Homo sapiens: one gene and its partners. The protein of the gene in region 1 purifies or fractionates together with the protein of each later gene. This does not show direct contact. Each region holds a gene or a part of one and is shown on either strand. Other genes may lie near its edges.

Region 1 (3,706 bases):
AAAAATAGGCAAAAGATTGGAATAGGCATTTCTCAAAAGAAGACATACAAATAGCCAAGTATATTAAAAAAATGCTCCACATCACTAATCATCAGGAAAATGCAAATCAAAACCAAAATGAGATATCATCTCACCCCAGTTCAAATGGCGATTATCAAGAAGACAAAAAAATAACAAACGCCGAAAAGGATACGGAGAAAGGGGAACTCCTACAGTACAGCCGTTATGAAAAACAGTATGAAGTTTTCTCCAAAAACTAAAAATAGAACGACCATATGATCCAGCAATCCCACTGCTGGGTATGCATCCAAAGGGAAGGAGATCAGCATGTCAAAGAGATATCTACACTCTCGTGTTTATTGCAGCACTATTCACAATAGCAAAGATACGGAATCAACCTGAGTGTCTATCAACAGATGAAGGGATAAAGAAAATGTGGCACTTATACAATAGAATACTATTCAGACATTTAAAAAAAGAATAAAATCCTTCATTCGCAGCAACATAGATGAGCCTGGAGGACATTATATTAAGTGAAATAAGCCAGACACAGAAAGACAGATACCACATGTTCTGACTCATATGTGAGAGCTGAAAAAGTTGGTATCATGGAAGTGGAGAGGAGAACAGTGGTTACCAGAGGCTGGGAAGGTTAGGGGGAAGGAAAAATAGGGAGAGGTTGGTTAATGAGTACAAAATTACAGCCAGATAGAAGGAATAGTTTCTAGTGTTCTATAGCACTGCAGGGTGACTCTAGTTAACAATAATTTATTGTATATTTTCAAATAGCTAGAAGAACAGATATTGAATGTTCCTAACACAAAGAAATGATGGATGTTTGAGGTGACGGACAGGCTAATTACCCTGCTTTGCTCATTTCACATGTATACATGTATTGAAATATCACATGTACACATAAATATCTATGATTATTATGTGTCCATTTAAAAGAATGGAACCAAGCCTCTTTAATTATTGGTCAGGAATTCTATTTCTGTCTCCAACAAACTACCTTTTTGCTTCTAAACTTGCTGCCCTAGAGTGAAATGTTAACTCCCAATGTTGCCAACTATGAGGCCAAAGGAAAATGACTTGATGTACATTGGTGAATGTATTTGGTTCGTGTTTTTAAGTTTTTTTATTCCTTCCTTCTTTCTTTATTTCTACTAATGTTCAATCAGGTGAACCTTAGGAAAAGAAGCTAATTTGTACCAAAATCTTACCTTGAACTCCCTAAGTATAAACTTAGTGTGGTTTCACATGCCCTTTCAATGAGGCATCTTGGGATTAGTCCTCAAGGAAAATACAGTCATGAGCCATATAATAATGTTTCAGTCAGCAACAGACCCCATATAGAATGGAGGTCCCATCAGGTTATAAACTATCTTTTTACTGTACCTTTTCTATGTTTAGAAACACAAACAAACACATATTCATGTTGTAAAGTGACAACACACGACTGTAAATGAAAAGTCCATTTGTTTGACAAATTTTAATAGTACATTCTTGGTACATCATCGTGGTCACATTTGATTTAATAAGCATTGTAAAACTCATGATGGGGCCGGGCACAGTGGCTCACGCCTGTAATCCCAGCAGTTTGGGAGGCCGAGGCGGGCAGATCAACTGAGGTTAGGAGTTTGAGACCAGCTTGACCAACATGGTGAAATCCCGTCTCCACTAAAATACAAAAATTAGCTGGGCATGGTGGCAGGTGCCTGTAATCCCAGCTGCTCGGGAGGCTGAGGCAGGAGAATCGCTTGAACCTGGAAGGTGGAGGCTGCAGTGAGCCGAGATCACGCCACTGCTGGGCAACAGAGCAAGACTTTGCCTCAAAAAAAAAAATAAATAAATAAAAAATAAAAAGAAAGAAAAAAACTCATGATGGCAGGGGAGGTACAGAACCAATGTACAGAACCAATGCATGCCTGACTCCTGATTTCCCAGAGCTGGAGTTCTTACACTGGTGTATCAGTTAGGACTCATTCTTTTAGAAGTGACAGAAAACCTGATAGGAATCAGTTTGATTTAAAAAGAAATAGAGGGTTTTTTTTTTGTTTTTTTGTTTTTTTTTTTTAAATAAAAGGGAGTGTATTAGCTGCCTTATGCGGAAAAGTCCAGGGTTAATCTTGCTTCAGGCGTGGCTGAATTTGGGGCTTAGTTGATATCAACAGAAGAAAGCATTGGAGCATCTCTTGGCTCTGCCTTCCTTTGTGTGGGCTTCAGTTTCAGCCGCACGTGATAACAAGGTGGTGCCTACAGTAGCAGCTGCAACCCCTGTCTCTGGTTTCAGGGCCAGTGGATAATAAGAACAGGAGTCATTTTCCCAGAAGTCCAGAGAAAAATCTCATTAGGTCTCACTAACCCTGAGTGTGTCACATTCAGACAGCGAGATGGGAGGGGGTCCCCAGAAAACCTCCAACCAGCCTGCCCACTTGGGGTGGAGCCTCGGGAAGCTCGTGCCATTTGCATCAGGGAGGAGCCTGGCCCCTCCTCTTCCTGTGTGTAACCTGGGATTCCAACAGGAAGGGTTGTAGCAGGGACTCTGACCTAGTAAGAGTCCCTGTTTCCCCCTTTTCTTCCTTTTCACCCAATAAAACCCTGTTTTACTCACCATTCAAATTGTTGGCGAGCCTTTTCAAATTGTCTGCAAGCCTTAATTTTCGTGGCCATGGGACAAAGAACTCTGTCTTTAGCTGAACTAAGGAACAGTCCTGGAACAACATAGCCGCTCTACCAATCAGAGGGAAATGCAGCAGACTGATGGGCGTGGGCCTGGGTCATATGTTGCACCCCTGGAGTGGGATGGTGGGGAAGGAGTCGGTTTCACGGAGCACAGAAAACCACAGTTCTTTAAGAGTGGGATGAGATGGGATGAGATGGCTTTAAAGAGGAAATCAGGACACACTTACTAGATAGTGAGTCAGTGAGTACTAGGCAGCAAAATCAACAGATGTCTACTACAGTTGGACTGTTGTCATTTTATTCTAGCTTTGCTGGGAAAAAGCCACTACGAACGCATTCAGCAAATTGCAGACTTGCGCTGAAGAGAAGAGACACAAGAATTGAAGGAGCTCAGCTTCTTTTCTCTAAATAGAACATAGTTTATACTAGTGAGGACAGATGCTTGTTTATTCTGTGCTGAAAGCTCTCCAACCAAGAGCATTTCCAACATCCTTCCCTCTGCAGATTGTTGCGGGACTTTGCAACTCTTACTAGTCAAAGGGAAACCTTAGGGAGGGGCTATTTAAGATGGAGTAATAAATATGTTTGGAGAAGAGCTAAAGGGCTATGTTATTTCACAGTTCTGGAATTCAGAGCAATAAAAAAGTAAACAGTCTTACTGGCTCAAAGGGGAGAGTCTTTTCATCTTGAAAATGACTTTATTTGGATTATTTTGGCCTCTCAAGAGACTTCCCCTGTGGCTGTATTATAAAATAATTCCTCATGTTTTCATTATATACTGTTCTGTCAGGCCTTGTGAAACAAGAAATGACTTACTGCATTTATTTGCTGTGTGATGGGGCTTTTCTGTTATTTACACATTCTTTGGTATACTATTAATTCATACCCACTTCAAATATGTAATTTTGGAGGCAATTTTCATTAAAATTTCTTACAACACATACATTTGAGATAATTGAACTGAGGCCTTATTTACCCAAATTGCTTATGCCAATACTATTCTATGGGTTTTAAAAGTAGG
Region 2 (4,201 bases), on another chromosome or scaffold:
GCGAACAGAGATTGTTTGACTTCTATGAAAAACATAGTGAAGTGAAAGCAAACATCTGTCCAGAAGGGAATAGAACAATAAAAATGCCCAATAATAAATTTAATTTGAATGTGAAGAACTAATATGAAGCAAATAACACAGTCATTGTGAGGGATACATAAAAAGACTTGAGGAAATGAGGAGTGGCTTTTTCTTGGATAGAGAAATTCTAAAATAGAAAGATAGATATTGTCCCTAAGTTAAGATGTAATTTAAAAATAATACCTAGTGTCTCACCTGGAATATTTTAGCACCTGATCAAATGATTCTGAAGTTCATCTGAAAGACAAATGTGTCAGAGTAGACAGAAAAGGAAAAAGCAATGAGGGAGGGCAAGCATTATTTCGCATTACAAATATAATTAAGCTACAGCAATTAAAATAGTATACTAGTGGTACAGGTACAAACGACTCAATGGAAGAAAATTAAAATAAGAGAGTTACATACAAAATTGAGTGGGGATGTAGGTGATGATAAAAGAGCCACTTCAAAACAGTGGGTGAAACAGGGATTCAACAAATGATGTAGAGTCCCTACCACTTAATTTTGTTCAGATGGATCAATTTTTTTTTTGTTTGTTTGTTTTGTTTTTTTTTTTTTTTTGAGATGAGGTCTCACTTTGTTGCCCAGGCTGGAGTGCAGTGGCACGATCTCGGCTCACTGCAACTTCCACCTCCCGGGTTCAAGCAATTATCCAGCCTCAGCCTCCCGAGTAGCTGAGACTACAGGCGCGTGCCACTATGCCCGGCTAATTTTTTGAATTTTTAGTAGAGATGGGGTTTCACCATGTTAGCCAGGATGATCTCGATCTACTGACCTCGTGATCTGCCCGCTTGGGCCTCCCAAAGGGCTGGGATTACAGGCGTGAGCCACTGCGCCTGGCCCGGATCAATGATTTTGAATGTACAATCATGCAACAAAAACTATGAATGTCTTATCATATTGGAGTGGGTAAGATCATTGCAAGCATGACAGCAGACTCGCGAAGGCACAAGAAAATGATTTATGAAAGCAGATATAAAATGGGTATTAACATATATAATATTTATTTCTATGATGGCGAATTTGTCCGAAACACATTGTTTTCTTAGAGTAACCTGGGCCTCATATTCTCCAACGCCATTGGAAGTGAAAGGAAGGTTGGGCGGGGGAAAAAGAAAAGTGCTTTGTAAGTTCATTTTCGTTGTCAGAAGAGCTTGTGGTTTAGGTTCTCCACAGAGGCAGGAAACCTTCAGTCACGTGGCAAATACCCCACTGAGTGCGCATGCTGCACAGATCTGTTGCTGCGCATGCGCCTTTCTGCCCACCTTCTGTCTAGGCAGAGCTCTGCAAGGAGAGGTTGTGTCTTCGTTCTTTCCGCCATCTTCGTTCTTTCCAACATCTTCGTTCTTTCTCACTGACCGAGACTCAGCCGGTAGGTCTGCAGAGTGGTCTTCCTGGTAATTTAGTTGTGAGTGAATGTGTGGAGGAGCCAGCGGGCTTAGGACAGGTCCCGTGGCACAGTCCGTGGCTTTGAGGGAAAAGGGCCTCGCGGTGGTCCTCCGCCTTCCCCCAGGTCCTGATGCAGGCGCCATGGGCCGGTAATCGTGGCTGGGCTGGAACGAGGGAGGAAGGTAGGCCGTGGAGGGGGTAGATCGCCTGAAGATGGTGCGAGTCCTGGGGGTGGGTGCTGTTAGAGGTGTCTGAGTCCCGAAAACGCCTGGAACTCTCTGAGGGAGGACAGTTTCTGGACTCTTCGTTAGGGATGCGAGAAGGGATGGTGTGGGTGGTAAGGAAGGGGCCAGGAAACTGGGAACGCTGTGGGCTGGTGACTACGGCCCCGAGGTCTGTAGAGTGCCTGGCAGAGGTGTCCAGTGAGGAACATAACCTTAACTCTGTGTCGCAACTTCTCATCTCAGCCATGGACCTCATGGAAAGGAATGGTTGAGGCTGTGCATTCCAACAAAACTTGATTTTTCGGGGAGTGGGGAGGAGGTGGTGGTGGCCCTAGTATATCAGAGTGGGAGGAAAGCAGCAGTCACTTCAGTTTCAATTTTCTGCCCGTTTTTTTCCTAAATGTGTAAATGATGGAGAGTCTAATTGTGAAGCCAAAACTCAGAAAAGTCCTCTGTCTTTTGCTATGGCGTTAAGGTGTTTTCTGTGCCTCTTCGACTATGATACAAACAAATCTGTCCTTAGTTTGATTGGAAAGCATGCGTACTTATCAATGCTCTGTGACTTAGTTTGAAAATATTTTCAAAATTAAAAAAGTACAAATCACCATTTTGCCATGGAATGTTCATATATATAGCTAAGTTCTTACACACTTTTTCCAAATAACAATATTTTGTTTTCAGTGAGAGATATGAGTGAGCATGTAACAAGATCCCAATCCTCAGAAAGAGGAAATGACCAAGAGTCTTCCCAGCCAGTTGGACCTGTGATTGTGAGTCCTTTAGCATTTGATGTTTTCTATTAACACATTTTATTTTAAAAAATATTTTTGAGCGAGTGTACATGCACTGATACAGGTGTTCCATGCTAATAAAAAATGATGATGGCATCTCATGAAGGCAACTTTGGTTCAGGAATATTATATTCTGGTGTTGCCTTATGGATATGGATATTTTACTCTCTCTCTATATATATATCTATTGGAAAATGTCTTTAGATTTATGATTCGATGCACATATGCATTTGTGTGTTTATATTATTGACTTTTTATTCGCACACACACTTACACCCTTAGGTCCAGCAGCCCACTGAGGAAAAACGTCAAGAAGAGGAACCACCAACTGATAATCAGGGTATTGCACCTAGTGGGGAGATCAAAAATGAAGGAGCACCTGCTGTTCAAGGTGAAGGGAGAGTGGAGAATAATGCTTATGGGTGGTGGAGGTCTATTTATGCATTATATTTTGTGACATACCAGTAACAGGAGGACAGAAAACATTAGGAAGGAATCTTAAACATTTCTTACTGCTGCTGTGCGGAGGGGTGGGACAAGGACACATAAAAAGCCACAAACTTTCCTACCATTTTGACGGAGGCTTTTTATTGATTGGGTATTTGCATGGTTGCCGTAAACCTTTGAGTGTTTTCCAGAGTTCCTGTATGGTTTGTTCAGCTATTTTCTGTTTTTTGTTTTGTTTTGTTTTGTTTTATGCTTCTGTGGAAGAATGGCAGCTTGCAGCTTCCTAGTCTGCCATCTGCGGACATCTCTCATGTATTTTTATAAGATACTTTTTAACACATTTATTAATGCTTCCTCATGCTGTGTAATATACTAAGCGCCGGAGATGTCAGTGCCAAATTTTTGCCTAAAGCTCATAGTCTAGTCAGACTGACTCAAACAAATCACTGATTTAATGTGATAAGAATAAGAACAAATGAGTACAAAAGGAACAAGTAAGTTGTCTAGGGCCAGCCTTGGGAAAGGAAAGGGCAATGTTTGAACATTTCTGCTTTCCTGCTTTTCTGGCAACAGACTTCTGAAATAATTAGCCTACAGGTTTTTATTTCACAATGATGAGGGAATAAATATTATTACCTCGTTCATAGTTCATATTTTAATTCGTAAATTGACGACTTTTTATCTTTAAGGGACTGATGTGGAAGCTTTTCAACAGGAACTGGCTCTGCTTAAGATAGAGGATGCACCTGGAGATGGTCCTGATGTCAGGGAGGGGACTCTGCCCACTTTTGATCCCACTAAAGTGCTGGAAGCAGGTATGTTATTCAATAAGATGCAAATTATAGGGTTTCTATTTTCACAATATTGTATTTTGTGTGACACAGAGGTAAAATTACTGCTACTTTAATATCATACTTCACATCTAAAGATTCTTTGAAGGTAGTTCAGACCCCAAATGGCTGCCTTACACACTATCAGAGATAGAAGGCCAGGTGTGGTGGCTCATGCTGTTAATTCCAGCACTTTGGGAAGCCGAGGCAGAAAGACCACTTGAGGCCAGAACTTCAAGAGATAGAATAAATTGGGTCAAAGCTAATTGAGTTACGATATGAAAGATATGAAACATGCTAAGAGAGTAGATTTTGAGTGTCTTCACAGCTATATGAAATAATGCATATATTAATTAGGTTGAGCCGTTTTACAATGTATGTATATTTTAAAACATCATGTTTTACATGATAAATATATATGATTTCATGTGTCATTTTT
Region 3 (4,366 bases), on another chromosome or scaffold:
AGGGCCTATATATCTATTGATGACAGAAACTGAGAAATAGAACATAGAATATTGGCTTGTGAGGAGGAAGGGTTTGGAGTAATAGGAGAGCAGTCACTGAGTATGTGAGGACCTAGGAGAACTTAGAAATCTTCCTTCTACAGCAGTCCCTATTTGAAAAGCCCTCAGGGAGATAGTTTATTCAGAAAATAGTTTTGCTTAGCTAAGATAAGAATGCGATTATAGAGGAAAAAGTGAGAGAATGTTTTACAGTGGAAAGGAGGTTCCAGGAGCATGAGGTGAACCTGGAAGGGTTCAACAGTAGTGCCATGAGTTAATAGAAAATAGGGAGCATTTTCTATTCTGGGTATGTGTGTGTAGAGGTGGTGTACATTTTCAGCTTCATAAATGGATACAGATGAGTGGACATATATATATAATATATTATATAATATATATTATATATATAATATATTATATAATATATATAATATAATATATATATACTATTAGTTCTGTCCATCTAGAGAACCCTGATTAATACAGCATTGTATTTTACTAAATTTCTTATTTCTTGTTATGCACATTTAGTTTTTCAATACATTGATTTATTAAATTTCTATCTCAATGTGATTTGTTTATACAAAATTGAATTAGTGAAATATTAACATATTTTAGAGATGTGGAAAAAATACCAGGTATGAGTTTAATTACTAGTCAATGAATTCATTCAGATAATTCAACTAGGATTAAGCTTTTTAAAAATTAAAAATAGTAAAAATTCATATTATTTTAAAGACTTTCAATAAACGTTTTTGGTTTTTATTTGCTTTAAGAATTTCCTATGCGAATTAAATGATGTTGATTTTGTTTACTTTAGTAGCACATGCTCTTTTAGCCTAGTGGATCATTTTGTTTGGTTTGATTGGAATAAGATTACTCACTAAGTATACAAAGAGGGGGAGTTTTACATTCAAGTAAGATGTCAAATGGGCTTTCAGTTGTGTCCACAAGAGCTGAGGTCTCTCCAGGCCCTTTGCGGCTTAGTTGCATGAAGAGCATATCTAATATCGAATACAATTCCAGGCACTCTTCCAAGTGTTCCACTTGTATTATTTCATTCAATTTTACAGCAACCTTTCAGGTGTCTATTATTAGTACACTTTTGTTTTCCCCCAGAAGAAGAAACTGAGTCATAAAGACCTTAACTTGGGACAATCACGTGTGTAGGAAAGGGGTACCAGGATTCAAACCTGCAGTCGGAAACAGGGTTCTGCAAACTCACTACCGTACTATTCTGTCCCATCCACTGACACCGTACTTCGATTCAGAGAACTTCACGTCCTAACTGTGGCAAAACGACGAATGTGCTTTATTTGCAACACGTGCAGATAAGGACCCTTACTCTATTGGCAAGAGTAAGGCTATCTGGGTGGGAGTTGGGCGGGTCCTGTCTCCTAGGCAACAGCACATGCACACAAGCGACCAATAATGAGCCCCTCTCCAAAGACCCAGGAAGGTGATGTCACTTCCTTCGTCTGGGTGGTTGCCCCAGCGACACGTTGGGCCGAAGAGCGGTGTTGGGTACCCGAGAGACCCGGCGGTGGGGAAGTCACTTCCTCCCGAAGACGCTGTTTCCTAGCAACCGCCCTCCGCCTCTGTTATTAGCCCCTCCTCCTCGCTCGGTCCAGGACCGGCTCTGCGGGCGCCGCCAGGCCCAGACCAAGGTGAGCAGCTCCTACCCGATGCTTGGCTCTTGATTCTCAGGGTCGCGGAGAACTGGCCGCGGGCGTCCGGGGCCGGGAACAGAAAGCGGGACCTGGGGGCCATGGGGGATCCGGACAGAGACCGCGCTTGGACGTGCACGGGCCTGGCGTTCGCTGGTGCTCAGCATACGGCGCGGTGAGGAGCGGCGAGCACCCGGACGTCACCTGGCCTGGTAGGGAACGGAACCCGGGGCGCACAACGCTATGGGCGGCCCTGCCAGGCCTCTGCTCCGAGTACGGGAAACCGCGATTTTAATGCGGCTCATCGCGAAAGCTTCGTCGTTTTGTCTGGCTCTCTTTAACACTTTTGTGAGAGGAAAAATTGGCTTGCAATACATCTCGCTGGCTGTTTGCGGGTTAGCATTACGATCTTTTTCTTTGAATAGCGCTGTATGCAAATATATAGATACATTTTTTTTTTGGTGGTGGTGCTCATAATTTTTACGCCGACGATCCTTTTGATGGCCTTTTAAATAAGACGTGACTTATTTTGAAGGCAATGTTATACTTTAGAAGAGAGGTGAAAAATAAGGTGTTCTATTTTAATTGGCAGCATTTTGTCGTATTAACTTGTAATCATTTATTTGCAGACTTTTTAAGTAGTTGCAAAACTATTTTAGGATAACTTCCATTTGAATTTTTTTAAACAAGCTTGTTATGAGAATTTGCTATTTCTTTACAAGAACCTTTTTAAGTGAAGATGTAGCCCAATGTTCATATCAGATGCTTTTCTTTGACCTTTGTGGGGAGAGTAGAATCAAATGTAATAAAATAAATTCTGAAGCATGCGAAGTCTGATTTGTTTTGTATATTTCAGCTACTATCAGAAGTTGAATTCTAATAATTAGCTATTTTATAAAGGTAACGAGAAAAAATACACTATGTCTGATGAAGTTTTTAGCACCACTTTGGCATATACAAAGAGTCCAAAAGTTACCAAAAGAACTACTTTCCAGGTAAAGTATTTTTATTTGGAATCATTTCACAGTGTAAACACTGTATTAGATGGGTTGAAATTGGTGATTCTAGAACAGTCCTATATAAAGCAGGGGTAAATCTTATATTACTTTTGAGGTTTTGCACATGATCATGTTTGGGCTCCATCCAGTATTACAAACTCCCCTATATGGTTTTAAGACTACCAAAGTAGCCTCAATACTAGTTTCCTACTAAGTTAAAAGTTGAATCGCAACCTTAAATTGCCATTTTTATATAAAAACTTTTTTTTCTGTTGTAACATAATGTTTAAGTTTTTTTTTCTGTTGAGTCACTGCAATTTTGAACTCAGCCTCTAAGTTTGCAATATTGATTGCATCCATTTCTGAAATATGCCGAGACAAAAGCTCTTAAAAATACCAATTTCTTTCAAAATACCAGTTTTTAATAAATTATAATCTAAATTGAGCCCCTTCTTATTTGTTACCCTCCAGCTCTAATTATAACCTGCAATTAATTTGTTCCATAATGTGTGTCTCCTCTAGTTAAACTGCGAGCTCCATGAGGAAGGGCTCTTGTCTGTGATGCTCTGCATTGAGTATGAGGCGTAAAGTGGGTACATGGCATAAAGTGAGCTTGCAGGAAATATTTGTTAGATGAATGAAACCTAAGTTTGAAAGCAGTCGTTAATCAAGCATTGTTTGTTTAAAGAATTACTTGTGAATATGATACCTCCATGTTTGGATGGAAATTGATTTCAGTATCTCATTTCAGGATGAGCTAATAAGAGCAATTACAGCTCGCTCAGCCAGACAAAGGAGTTCTGAATACTCAGATGACTTTGACAGTGATGAGATTGGTATGTGACAGTATGGAAACGTGAACCACTTTTCTTCTTTTTGCTTCCTTAGTTTTGTATTTAGCCAGCCCCCCAACCACCCATCCCCTCAATCACGTATGTTAAAATAATACCTAAGCATTCACTAATTTTAGATTTTCAACTTTTTAATTAGTAGAAAGCCACTCTTAATTTTCAGGAAGTTGTATGATTTTCTTTTTTTATTGTTGTTTTGTTTTCTGAATGTGTATACGAAAATATAAATTAATTGATGGCAGGTTTGCAGTAAAAGGATGGCTGCCAGTGGTAAACCACATTGAAGAAGACAGGTTCATCTTTAAGATCAACCCTAGGAGGTGCTACAGCTAGTTAGTAACTAGTCCCACAGAACTAAACTTCGGTGCACATTAGAAGTGCTTTTATAAAGCTTGCTATAAATCAGATTTTTTTTGGCTGTGATAAGGGGTAAATTTAAAAACCACAGACTCTTCGTGTTTCATATATCAGTACTATTATAATTTGGTTTCTCTTAGCTATGTAAACATATTAACATTTTAGTTTCAGGTATAAGCATACAGAATTCTAAACTTGGTGTTTTTGTTTGTTTGTTTTTGTTTTTGAGATGGAGTCTCGCTCAGTTGCTCAAGCTGGAGTGCAGTGGTGCAATCTCGGCTCACTGCAACCTCCACCTCCCAGGTTCAAGTGATTCTCCTCCTTCAGCCTCCTGAGTAGCTGGGACTACAGGTGCCCGCCACCATGCCCGGCTAATTTTTGTATTTTTAGTAGAGATGGGGTTTCACCACATCGGCCAGGCTGGTCTCGAACTCCTGACCTTGTGATCCGCCCG
Region 4 (2,753 bases), on another chromosome or scaffold:
ATGGAAACAAAAAACACAGCAACTGAAAAAACATGGCTTACTGCGCTGGCCACTGCACACAGTGAGTGTGACCCACTGTGACATGAACCTGCTATTCAAGCATACCTTTGCTGGTCTGAGGATCACTACATGTGATTCTAACATTAAAAACTACACATTTTTGGTACAATATGGCTACCAAAATACAAGTCAACTATTTCACCTGGTGCTCAACCAAAGAAACAATGATTTCATCCACCCTAGGATGAACTGGCTGTGCTGGATTAAAAGACAGTAGCCTTTGGCTCCACCATCAGTCTTTCTGAAGACATTTTCTTTTTTTTTCTTTTTTTTTTTTTTTTGAGACAGGGTCTTGTTCTGTTGCCCAGGCTGGAGTGCAGTGCCACAATCATGGCTCACTGCAGGCTTGACCTCCTGGACTCAAGCGATCCTCCCACCTCAGCCTCCTGAGTAGCTGGGACTACAGGTGTGCGCCACTATACCTGGATTTTTTTTTTTTTTTTTTTTTTTTTTTTTTTTAGACAGAGTCTTGCTCTGTCACCTGGGCTGGAGTGCAGTGGCGAGATCTCGGCTCACTGCAAGCTCCGCCTCCTGGGTTCACGCCATTCTCCTGCCTCAGCCTCCTGAGTAGCTGTGACTACAGGTGCCCGCCACCACGCCTGGCTAATTTTTTGTATTTTTAGTAGAGATGGGGTTTCACCGTGTTAGCCAGGATGGTCTTGACCTCCTGACCTCGTGATCTGCCCACATCAGCCTCCCAAAGTGCTGAGATTACAGGCATGAGCCACCACGCCCAGCCAGCTAATTTTTTTTATTTTTCATAGAGATGAGGGTCCCACTATGTTGCCCAGGCTGGTCTCCAACTCCTGGACTCAAGTGATCCTCATGCCTCGGCCTCCAAAAAAGTGTTGGGATTATAGGCGTGAGCCACTGCACCGGGCCCCTAAGACATTTTCAAGGGTAACTTTGACTATGCTCAATTTCTATCTGCAGAGCTGACTTTAGATTCAATTCCAGCTTTAAGAGGCTATGCCTGGTGTCTATGGTTACCTCAAAGTCATCCTCTATTAATTCCTTCTTTTTCATGAGCTGCTTTTTCTTCTTTTTGCTCAGATTCTGGTGCTCCACAATCTTGTTGTAATTGAAGTGTTTCTTACTGTCCTCGTCCTCATCCATCATAAGCAAAGCCATTTCAGCCTGTAGAGAGCAAAAAAAAGTTCAAATGTACAACAGTGCTTTTTTTTCCACCCCCAAAAAGGAGTATAGGGCAGAAGATATCTCTTCTAGAAAGGAAGACTCAATCACTAGAACTCTGGGGTACCACCTGTTGTCTGTAAACTGACTGTGGATTACCAAAACAAAGAGATCTTTGTATAGCAATAAGGTAGAATCTCTGGAAGCAACATTACTGAGAGCAGGAGAGGTAAAACCTTGTAGTTAAAAACCAGGCCCCATTTCACTTAGTGTGACTCATTAGTAGGCTGCAGGAACAAGAGTCCCCAACTACCCTCAAATAAAAAGTTCTCATTTTCACTTTGTTCTTTTTGCGCAATGATGCTAAATCTAGCAAATGTTTATTTTGTGATGCAAATTATACTTTCTAAATGTGTAACTTTTAACAAGTAAGTTTTTTTTTTGCTTTTTTTTTTTTGGCCTTTACTGTTTCAATACTGATACATTTCTATGAAGGTAGGACCTTAGGATCTGCTTCTGAAATCTAGTAAATGTCTTTTTACACTAAACGGGTATTTTCTACCAGCCATGGGATTAAACGAGAACCCTCAAGAATCAAGTAAATAACCATGTACACTAGTAAAAATACAGAGTATGCTCTCGACCTTTGTGGATCTTCCTATATTACCACTTTAGACTGCCTTAATTTCCTTTTGTCACTGGCACTTTTAGCTGGCTTTTCAGAGACATTTTCCATAAAAATTGATTTTCTTTGTTGCTCTTTAGATAACTTTATGTGGCCAGTCAGGCACACTTCTGGACAGTGACATGAACATCAGCCCTAGGGGCACTGCTGCCTTCAATTCCTGCCTCAGCAAAATCACATATGACTCTGTGCCAAAATTACGTGTGACTCTGGACATAGGGGGTCACTGAAGCATAAGGTTCACTGCATTTCCAAGAATGTAATTTTGTACGTTAAATATACATATTCACAATAAGAAAAACAGAAATTTGCATTTGACAAACCATAACCACAAACTGTATTCCAGGACAGATTCAGATTGAATTAAAACTTATGGCAATATTATTTTGAGGTTTTAAGGGTATTTTCTGCCTCAGGTATAGTAAGTGTTTTTAAAAGTGAGATAATTCCCTCTTAATTTATAAAAGAAAATAAATACCCTTGAATTTGAGGTTAATTTTAACTTTGTACAATTTGGAGAAATTATGTTTGGTAAAAAAAACACTGTATTTAGAAACTACACTGCTAAAATATTTAATTATGTCTCTTACAATTTAGTTATAAATGCCACTGCTAAAATAAGTTGTTTTTTAAAATTAGTGACATGTACAACTTCATTTAAATTGTACCTATGAATTATCCACTAAGCATGTAACAATAATCGTATTTTACCTTTTGTCTTTCTATTTCAATTTCTTCTTCTGGAGATGTGCCATCTTTTGCAGATTTTACCGATTTTTTATTTATACCTGGCACAACAAACCAACATAAGAGTGGTAAAAATTACAGGACTATCAGCAACATTCTGTTTATACTAGGAACAAAAATATAAGAT

Evidence for each region.
Region 2: the proteins of FAM107B (region 1) and PAGE5 purify together in Homo sapiens (affinity purification with mass spectrometry; one large-scale study listed by BioGRID and IntAct). This does not show direct contact.
Region 3: the proteins of FAM107B (region 1) and MAP9 purify together in Homo sapiens (affinity purification with mass spectrometry; one large-scale study listed by BioGRID and IntAct). This does not show direct contact.
Region 4: the proteins of FAM107B (region 1) and ESF1 purify together in Homo sapiens (affinity purification with mass spectrometry; one large-scale study listed by BioGRID and IntAct). This does not show direct contact.

What each region holds. Positions count from the first base shown.
Region 1 is NC_000010.11:14,670,244-14,673,949, reverse strand, and holds part of FAM107B (protein FAM107B), read left to right. Parts: intron 1-3,706.
Region 2 is NC_000023.11:55,219,000-55,223,200, forward strand, and holds the start of PAGE5 (P antigen family member 5), read left to right. Parts: upstream 1-1,346; 5' UTR 1,347-1,453; exon of another isoform or gene 1,454-1,600; coding exon of another isoform or gene 1,601-1,652; intron 1,653-2,375; coding exon of another isoform or gene 2,376-2,383; coding exon 2,384-2,464; intron 2,465-2,767; coding exon 2,768-2,876; intron 2,877-3,621; coding exon 3,622-3,747; intron 3,748-4,201.
Region 3 is NC_000004.12:155,374,111-155,378,476, reverse strand, and holds the start of MAP9 (microtubule-associated protein 9), read left to right. Parts: upstream 1-1,511; 5' UTR 1,512-1,706; exon of another isoform or gene 1,707-2,101; intron 2,102-2,562; 5' UTR 2,563-2,626; coding exon 2,627-2,701; intron 2,702-3,455; coding exon 3,456-3,540; intron 3,541-4,366. UniProt on the Homo sapiens protein: Involved in organization of the bipolar mitotic spindle. Required for bipolar spindle assembly, mitosis progression and cytokinesis. May act by stabilizing interphase microtubules.
Region 4 is NC_000020.11:13,716,318-13,719,070, forward strand, and holds part of ESF1 (ESF1 homolog), read right to left. Parts: intron 2,668-2,753; coding exon 2,591-2,667; intron 1,198-2,590; coding exon 1,051-1,197; intron 1-1,050. UniProt on the Homo sapiens protein: May constitute a novel regulatory system for basal transcription. Negatively regulates ABT1.